3 separate regions of the Homo sapiens genome follow, and regions 2 and 3 are each reported to be linked to region 1. The links are microRNA targets in miRTarBase. Many come from high-throughput screens and were not tested one by one. Region 1 holds a microRNA gene; each other region holds the end of a gene's coding sequence.

The links. The annotated mature microRNA hsa-miR-2114-3p reads CGAGCCUCAAGCAAGGGACUU and lies in region 1 at 2,332-2,352, shown strand. An mRNA with a match to its seed (bases 2 to 7 or 8) in the 3' UTR can be bound and repressed. Matches are read on the target gene's strand: a 7mer-m8 pairs with bases 2 to 8, a 7mer-A1 pairs with bases 2 to 7 and ends in A, and an 8mer does both.
Region 2: the mRNA of UBOX5 is a reported target of hsa-miR-2114-3p. Seed matches in the 3' UTR shown: 7mer-m8 at 1,233-1,239.
Region 3: the mRNA of KLF13 is a reported target of hsa-miR-2114-3p. Seed matches in the 3' UTR shown: 7mer-m8 at 1,126-1,132.

Annotation. Positions count from the first base shown.
Region 1 is chrX:150,225,721-150,229,060 of GRCh38, forward strand. MIR2114 (microRNA 2114) reads left to right here and starts at 2,284; the gene lies at 2,284-2,363. RefSeq lists enhancers at 1-133, 134-719.
Region 2 is chr20:3,107,265-3,110,264 of GRCh38, forward strand. It overlaps UBOX5 (U-box domain containing 5), which reads right to left. Exons shown (of 5, transcript NM_014948.4): 5 at 309-3,000. The coding sequence ends at 2,842. UBOX5-AS1 (UBOX5 antisense RNA 1) reads left to right here. Exons shown (of 7, transcript NR_038395.1): 1 at 1-307; 2 at 2,211-2,486. Among named protein-coding and RNA genes, the nearest start is that of UBOX5-AS1, 1.9 kb to the left of the region's middle.
Region 3 is chr15:31,371,720-31,374,719 of GRCh38, reverse strand. KLF13 (KLF transcription factor 13) reads right to left here. Exons shown (of 2, transcript NM_015995.4): 2 at 1-2,710. The coding sequence ends at 2,421. Among named protein-coding and RNA genes, the nearest start is that of KLF13, 46 kb to the right of the region's middle. RefSeq lists an enhancer at 1-890.

The sequences.
Region 1 (3,340 bases):
TAATTTCCTCTTGTGGGCTCCTGAGGGGGCCCAGTAACCGTGCAATTGGTATTCCTCTCCAGCCTTGGAGGATGCGGGCACTCTCTCGGAGATGGCTCCAGGTGGCACAGAGTGCCACCTGCACTCCCAGCTTCCCGATTAACTACTCTGCAGCAGACCTCCACAGGGCGATGAAGGGGAGGTGATAAGCTGGCCCAGCTCTGCCCTGGAGCCCAGGTGGGTCTTCTCCCGCCCGGAGGCAGCAGCGGCAGCATTAGGGAGGTGCGAGTTGACCCTACCTCCTACCTGCTTTGTGCTAAACCAAAACAAAAACCGGTGTCAAAGGGGCTTGGCCCCCTTCAGCAATTGAAGGCATAGAAGTTACACACCGGGCCAATTAGGGAGTGGAAATTTGCATTACAAGAAGACCCTTTGCTTCACAAAAGTAGTTCTCATAAGATTGCAATAGATGGCACCCAGGGGGGTTAAAGATTCAATTTTCAAAACCGAGTTTTGCCCACAACTCTTTCGCAGCACGTTCTGTTGTGGAAAACCAGTCTCCAGACTGACTTTTGACCAGCCTTCCAGCCCCAAGATTTGTTGTTTACCAAAGGATACATGCCATCCTTATACTATCTCATACTCAACCCCCTTCTTTGCTATGCCCGGGGCAATTGCTCCAAAACAGATATGGCTCCTCCCAGGCTGGCACCTGGCTCCCGGAGGTAGTCACAGTGGACAAGTATCTAGGCCTGGGGTGGAGAGTACGAGCTAGACCTGAGTCCCAGTCCTGCTGAGCCATCTCAAGTTGCAGGGCCTGTCCCCTCTTTCAGGCCTGAGTGTCCACATTTATAGAACAAGGGAAGGTTGATAGAAGAATCTCCCAAAGTGTTTTTCATTCTAGGAGTTCATTCCTAGGCATTGCTGGGTGGCCCTGGGGATACTCTTGACCTATGAAGTAAGATAGGGACATTGCCTTAGATAACGCCAATAATAATACACAGGGGAAAATCCAAATGCCTGCGTGCAAGTACTTTAGCCCTTGTACCATTTACAGATGCTGAAGGTGCAGCGGTGGGGATGGCCTGTGTCCCTACAGAAAGCACATCTTACAAGTCACACGCCTCACCATCTAAGTGCTCAGCTTTCTGAAACCTGCTCATTCAGAACATATGAACCTCATGCTGTGGTATTCCAGGTCTCAGCTTGGCAAGCTCAATGATGTTTTCATTCCAATCAGTGCTGAATACAAACAGACCCTTATCCCTAAATTGTGAAATTTAGAGAAAAGTAGAGTCTCAAGGTGCAAAATTTGAACCTCACAAAATTTAACTAAACCGAAGTTTGGGATATAGTAAGAGCTCAAGGAAATGGCTTCTAATTGCTCATTGGGAATAGATTTTTGAGATTAAAACAAATTTTTCAAACCTGTCCAGACTCAGAGGCTTGGGAGTGAACAGTTGTCACTTAACTTTATGGCAGTGGTGGCTGGAAGCTCGCCCACCCTGATTCTTTGTTCTCCCTCCCATAATTGCTCAAACTGAGAGGTCTGTAGGCACCTTAAGGATTCAAAGTGATTTGTGAAAGTTGTAAAGTCCAAGCCTCAACTAGAGAGTTGTTCTTGGAGGTAGGAAGTTTGAGGGACTTAAAATGAACTGGGGGGAAAAAGGCAACAGAGGAAGAGTGAGAACAGAGAGAGAGAAAGGCTCAGAGGAAGGAAGATAGGGGAGGGGGGGAGAGAAGGAGAGAGAGAACGTGAACATTTCCTGGTGATTTTAATTTTCACATCACAAAACACCGCACGTCTGTCAACCGTTATATTTCCTGTGCAGCCTTCTGTGACCACATGGAGTACCTCAGGGAGGGAAGAAAATAGAATTCATTCCTTTCTACCCCCAGCCTGATCTGCCCACAGCTGTTTGGGCACAAAGGAAGGAGGGTAGAGCTCTGGAAAATTGCCAAGAGCGCCTCCTCTCTCCAAGGGGAATGACCAATTTTCACCGCCACTGGAAGGGTGTGAGCTGTCCCAAACTGCCCTCTGGGATTATGCTTACTCGGTTCCACAGGAACATTTAGAGAGACAGAGGTTGCCTTGGGTTATCAGGGCCACAGGCTTCCTGGGTCTGCTTTTGGCACCTAGGATTCCATGAAGAGGGACTGACAGAACCTGAGAGCTGAAAAGCACCTCAAGAAGTCATCGGTCCAGTCTTGCCTCTAAGGACTCTCCATCTCAATCAGCAGGACCCTCACCCAGTCAGCAATGGATCAAACGTCCCAGCTTCTGGGGCCAAAGACAGGCCTCTGCCTCCATGCTCCTAGTCCCTTCCTTGAAGCGGTCGGATAATCACATGACGAGCCTCAAGCAAGGGACTTCAAGCTGGTGGCTTCCAGCAGCTAGCTTCCTGCTTCCGAACCATCATTGCCTCCTATTGAAGTCCTCCCATCCTCCACTCCCACATCTATCCAGGCCCTGGGAAACTTTGCCAAGAAGCAGATGATGGCGTCTGCCTTTGCCTGGGTGATGAGATGACTGGCTTCTGTCCCAGTTCTGCCACTCACCAGATGGATCAGTTTCTCATTGCTGTTATAACAAATTACCACCAACATAGTGGCTTAAAACAATGCAAATTTACTATTATACTTTTGGAGGTCAGAGGTCCAAAACAAATCAGTTTCACTGGCCTAAAATCAAGGTGTCAACAGGGCTGGATGCTTTTGGAGGCTCTGAGGGGAGAATCCATTACTTTGCCTTTTTCAGGTTGGCCACCTGTATTCCTTGGCTCATCACCCCCTCCTCCATCTTCAAAGCACATCGTTTCAATCTCTTTCTTAAGGTATCTTGCGGAGGAGGTCCCAGAGGCACCAAAGGGGTGACAAGCACAGATTGCTTTAACTGCTACTCAGAGAATGACTCTGCGCCAAGCCCTGTGCTGAAGGCTTTACACTCACAATCCTTGATATACACATGGAGCTCTTGTCATCACATCCCTTTTTCTTCTGTCTGTGCCAAATCTCCTTCTGCCTTCCTCTTATAAGGACACTTGTGATTGCATTCACAGCCTTCCCAGATAATCTAGGACAACCTTCTCACTTCAAGATCCTTAACTTAATTACATACACAAAGTCCCTTTTGCCATATAAAGTCATATTCACAGGTTCCAGGGGTTAGGATGTGGACATCTTTGTGGGCCATTATTTAGCCTACCATACCAGTAATAGGTCTTTGGCAAGTAAAGTCACCTCACCTCTCTGAACCTTACTTTCCTCATTTGTTCAGAGGGGAGAAGACTCCTGCCCTGCTGACTTCCTGGGCGCCCTAGGAGGTTCCAGTAAGAGAGTGAATGTGATGACATTGTATGCT
Region 2 (3,000 bases), not on the chromosome of region 1:
CACCTTGGGAGGAGAGATTTGGAGAATGGTGCTGCCTGGGCCCCTTTGCCCCCACCAAACCGCAGGGGTACCATGGCCCTGACCTGCGTTCAGAGGGCCGAGTCAATGTCACAGGAAGGGGAAGAGACATGTGCCCACAGACCCTGTGGTCATGGAGGGGGTGGAAGATCTCTGGAGGGCAGCAGGGCCACAGCAAGGCTCTGAGGTCCTGAGTCTTCTCCGTCCGTGGACTTAAACTCTGCGTGTTTACAGCTGTTCTGTGCCTGGGTCCAGGCTCTAGTGAGAAATAAACTGCCTTCAGAGCCAGGTGACAGCAAAAGAAATTTTATTCCCATTTTCTAGGGGACAGAAACAGAGCCCAGTGGTGCCTAGCATGTTTCTGGCAAGGGTAGTGAAAAGACCACTTCCTTTTGGGGGAAGTCTTTCAATTAAGAAAAACACACGCAACTCCTGGGGGTGGCTCCACCTGTACCCAGGACAGGGCCTGCCACTCCAGGGGCTCCCAGGCTGGATTTTCCACCAGAGCAGTCTTGGGGGCAGGAGCCTGTTAGAAATGCAGATCCCCAGGGACCTGCAGCGGTCTGGGCAGTACCTCCAACACAGCTGCTTAAGGGGAGGCAGTCCGGCCCTCATCTGGGAGCGCCGTGCTGACGCTGACTGCACGCTAGGGCTCTCGGGGTTGGGTGGACAGGGTTTCTCCGAGAGATGGGCTCCCAGCAGCCAGAGCACACTGTGGGTGTCAAGCTGCTGGTGGGAAGCAGGCTGTTCCCTGAGACCATGACAGGGTGAAGGTGGGAATCACCAGCCCCCACACTCACCAAGAAATGCTTTTGCTACATGCTGGGGCTTTTTTCTTTTTTTGAGAGGGAGTCTCACTCCGTCGCCCAGGCTGGAGTACAGTGGTGAGATCTCGGCTCACTGCAACCTCTGCCTCCCCGGTTCAAGCGATTCTCATGCCTCAGCCTCCTGAGTAGCTGGCATTACAGGCACACACCACCATGCCCAGCTAATTTTTGTATTTTTAGTAGAGATGGGGTTTTGCCATGTTGGCCAGGCTGGTCTCGAACTCTTGACCTCAAGTGATCCACCCACCTTGGCCTCCCAAAGTGCTGGGATAATAGGCATGAGCCACCATGCCCGGCCATGCTGGGGCTTTTCTAAGAACACAAGCACACCGGAGGGTAAGACAAGATTCTGGAGAGGCACAGACCCAGAAAGCCAGGGGCACACAGGAGCCTCGCCAGCGAGGGCGGCACAGGCCATCCATGCGGACCCTCAAATCTCATGTGAAGGCTGCATCAAGGTCAGTGCCAAGAGGAAGCAGAGCAAAGCATGTGACCACCTCTCTGAAGCCATCTTTGTGGACAAATGATGTAGGAACTCAAAAAAATGCAGGCTTGGCTAGGCGAAGTGGCTCATGCCTGCAATCCAAGCACTTTGGGAGGATCGCTTGAGCCCAGGAGTTTGAGACCAGTCTGGACAACATAGCAAGACCTTGTCTCTACAAAAAATAAAAAAATTAGCTGGGCATGGTGGCACATGCCTATAGTTCCTGCTACCTGGGAGGCTGAGGTAGAAGGATCCCTTAAGCCCAGGAGTTCGAGGCTGCAATGAGTTATGATTGCACCACTGCCCTCAAGCTTGGGCAACAGAGACCAACCCTGTCTCAATTAAAAAAAAAAAAAAAAAAGCAACTAACCCCAAACCCAGATCTCTAAAGTATTGGGTGTGGACTAGAGCTCTGGACGGCCTAAAGGAAAGGAATGTGCCGGTTCACAGGGACCCGCGGCTAAGCTCAAGGGTAAAATACAGCTTTACAAAGCATCTTTAGGCTGTTCCTTCCCAAACGTGCTTAGAAGGGAACAGGGAAAGGCGGGTGTGTTTTCTCACTGAGGTTCTTCTAGTGGCTGGAATCTGATAGAGTACCAAGTTGTAGGGATATGGATATATTTTCCCTTTGGCACTCCATAAAGCTAAATGTTGGGCTGAAAAAAGGATGCAGCCTATAAACAAGTATTTTTCCTGAAACCAACTGCATGAGGAAACGCTGCGCTCCCCCTCAGGGAGCAGTTTCTGAAGCCAGCTGAGCACAGCTGGCACTGGCCAGAGGGAGCCCTCCACCCTCCCACCACGTATGCCCACCTGCAAACCTGGGTTCTGAGTCCCCATGCAGGGGACAGACCTGAAAATTCCAGTTTGTGTCCTTTCAGGTCATCGACAGGAATGACAGCCTGGCAAGCTGCAGTGACTGCACACAGCTACCCTGTGAGCTCCACTTGTGTGGGTGCAGGTGGGCGACAGGAGTGTGTGACACAGACAGGCACTCCACCAGGAGGAAACCCACAGCAGACGTCAACCATCGCTTTATTAAGGCTGCGAGTCGGGGGGCTGAGTCATGCACTCCACAGACACCCCCACTGCTCCCAAGGTCCACTTTTGGATGACCCTGAAGGCAGAGACTCCTGAGATCTGGGCCACAATCTAGGGTGAGCCACCCACAGTGCCCTGCTGGACAGGGGGGTATGCGGACTGCACGGGGGGGCCCTCAGCAGGGGTCTTCCTGCCTAGGGTGGGGCTGGCTCCAGTGGGTCCTGGGCTCAGGCAGGGGGGGTGGCAGGGAGGCAGGGACATCCCCCCGCCCTCTGGCCTATGGCTTTGTTGCCCTATTGCCACCAGCGCAGAAGCAATGTGCTATACCGTGAGGTGATGAAGAAGAGCCCCGGGAGGGAGCAGGCAGCTCTGTGCCTGGGGCCTGGCCAGACCTCAGGGGTGCTGTGGCCCTGCTCCTGTTCCCCCTCAGCTCCTCCCAGCAATGGGTCTCCTCCAGTGGAGGTCAGTCACTCAGAAGTGGACCCGCAGCACGTCTTGGCTAGCAACCGGCCGCTGGCAGGCTGTGCACGTCATGGGCAGGGAGCGTTGCTTCTCACCCAGGCAGGGTCGGCACAGGAGGTGGCCGCAGGGCAGCTGGTACACCGGCTCCTTTTTGAAGTAGGGAGAAAA
Region 3 (3,000 bases), not on the chromosome of region 1:
GGACGTCTGACCCCTCCCTGGAGAGCACTTTGCCAGCCTCCCAGGGACGGGCCACTCCCTCTCCCTGCCTTGGGGAACGGTGGACGGTGAGTGCACCAAAGGACTTTGGAATAAAATTCCTGAACCTGGAATGTGAATTCCTGAGACATAAAATGTATTCAGAGTGTGGCTTTCTCTGCCTCACACGAAAACAACTTTGGGAGGGACCTCACTTTGGAACTGGGCATGAAGATCTTTGCACCACAAGCACCCAGGGCTCTCTTCTGTCAAGGTCCCTACCAAATATTCCACTCTCTCTCCCAGACCCAATGCAAGCAGGGAGGTCAGAGAGCCCCAACACAGCATGGCAGCCAGAGGGACCAGCTCCGCATCCAACCAGAGTGGAGGTGACCCTCTCCCTGCCAGTTCCCACCACAGCAGAAACAATGCCACTGCCCAATTTAGGGTCCATCGGTCTACCTAGAAGTCACCACCACGCTGTCGGCCAATCCCAGCTGACACACAGTGGTAAGAAGCGGGCACCTGACGGCATACTGTGCCTGAGCAGCTGCTGTGGACAGAGCGTACCTGTCCACTCTGGAGCCAGCCAAAACAGTGACCATCAGCTGTGGGCAGTGGCTAGGCCTGGGTCCTGGGTTTGTGCTGCACCCCATAGCATGGCAGGGCTGAGTAGAAGCAGGATGGCCACAACCAAGGCACGCTAGGCCCAGGAAGCCCATCTGTGGCCCTCTGAGGTCCCAGGGCCGTTCCTTTGCATCAAAATAGGTACTCATCAAAACAGGTATCTCTGGCAAGATACCCTGAGTCCACCCCAATCCCCCCACCCCCCCCAACACACGCGTGTGTGCTCACGCGCGCACACACCCACACGCACGCACACACTCTGTCCTGGGCCCTTGTATTTACAGGCCTCAACTCTCAGGAGGAAGGGAAGGTGATACCTGGGCCACAAGCCTGGGTCAACACTCCAGCCATCTGCAGAGGAGTTTGCTGGACCACGGCTTGACTGACCCCCGCCCAGGGCTCGAATCCCAGCCCAGGACCCAGCTCTCTGCTCCTCCTCTCCTGCCAGGAGAAGGCCGGTGATGGGGCACTGGAGCAGCCCCACCAGCTGGGTGTGGCCTGGAGCCTCCAGGCAGGACAAGGAGAAGCAGGAGGAAAAGGGAGGAGGAGTCCAGGGGAAACGGAGAGGCTGGAGGTTTGCTAAGTCTGAGTTGGGGACATGGTGGGTCTGAGAAAAGTGTTGCCCGCAACTTTCTATCTGGCATTCCCTGCGGAGGAAATAGAATGCGCGCTCTCCGACAGCATTTCCTGTAACATCCGCGCCACTCCTGAAAAGGTCCAAGTCACAATGTTCCGGTCTCTTGCTACAGAATGGTCTCTGTGAAGCATGGTGCGCTGCCACATGCACAGCCGCTCACACAGACCCTCTGATGAGGAGGCCCCATGACCTGCCCACTGTTTCCAACAAAAGTGCCCGTGCGGGCAAACTCGGAACTGGATGTGCCACCAGGAATTTCTAACATCTTTTTAGAAGACCAGAATTCCCCATCAGAGGCCCAGGTATAGTAGTGACAGGGTCCTGCATGCCTTCTGCTGGGACACGGAGAAGCGGAGTCCTGGCAGGTGTGACCCCGGCCCCTGCCTCGGAGGTCGGACGGTGCAGTGCTACGCTCAGCCAGGGCTGGCATCTCTGCTTCCAGTGCTCCCTAGCGCCGTAGGAGAGGGCTCCTGAAGGCGGGGTGTGAGGCAGGCAGGGTGCAGAGGGCTGAAGGCCCCCTCCACTATCCCCAAGGTGGAGTGCTCCTCCAGCCAGGGACAGCTTTAAGGCATCCCTCTGCAGGGGCCTGTCTCAGAATCAGCTGCGTTGCAAGCCCAGCCAGGCTCGTTGGGCAGAGGCCAGAGACTGGGTTGGGGGCTGGGCAGGAAGAGGTCAGGCCAGCTGCTTAGGAATCTGCCCTGGAGGCACAAACGTCAGTGAGCACATCTGCTCCCAACAGACCCACAGGCTGGCCAGCCAGCCAGACGCTGAGCTCCACCAGACTGGCTGGCCTGCTCTGTCCCCAGCGTGTTCCCGAACCTAACAGAAAACTCCAGAGTGCAAATCTATGTACAGAGTAAGGCGGCAGGAAGGGGTGTCCTCACTGACCTCGTGAAACGTGTCCATCCCTGAGAAAGGGGGTTCAACAACGCTGAATCTCAACTTTGTGGGTGTATCTATTGTGCAATTTGGTGGGTGGTGTTTTTTGAAATTTTTGTGTTTTTTTTGTTTTTTTAACAAATTTACTTTGACACCTGAGGTGAAAAAAATTGTTTTTTCGTGGACTTTGCATCAAGTTCTCTCTCTTCTTTCTTATTACAAAAGGAAAGGCCAGGGACTCACGAGGGGGTGGGAGCGGCTGCTCATGGCTGTGGCGGGCTCAGGGCGAGCTGGCCGGGCTGATGGTGGGGCTGCTGGCGTCGGAGCGGCTGTAGTCGCTGAGGGAGCCGGTCCGCGAGCCCCCGCCGCGCCGCTGCAGCATTCCCGGGTGGAAGTTGGCGTGGCGGCGCGCGTGCTTGGTCAGGTGGTCGCTGCGCATGAAGCGCTTCTCGCAGATGGGGCAGCTGAACTTCTTCTCGCCCGTGTGTGTGCGGTAGTGCCGCGCCAGCTCGTCGGAGCGCGCGAACTTCTTGTTGCAGTCCTGCCAGCTGCAGGCGAAGGGCCTCTCACCTGTGGGCACAGGGGCAGAGCATCAGTATCCGCACCTGGCCCCGCCTTCACACCCTCTCTGGGGAAGGGCCCGCAACACCCAACACCCTGGTCTCTCAACACCCCTCCCACATGCCCCACCTCCAAGAGCTTCTGTGACAAATCCATCAAGGCAGAGATGAAGGTGGGCCCCTGCCCTCCCGCCCACGCCTGGGATGGAGGCAGAGGACACGGCCTAGGATAAAACAGCATTTCAGGTGCTGAAGCTGCAGGGCCCATGGGTAGGTACAGGTCAGGGCCCCAGGCTCCTG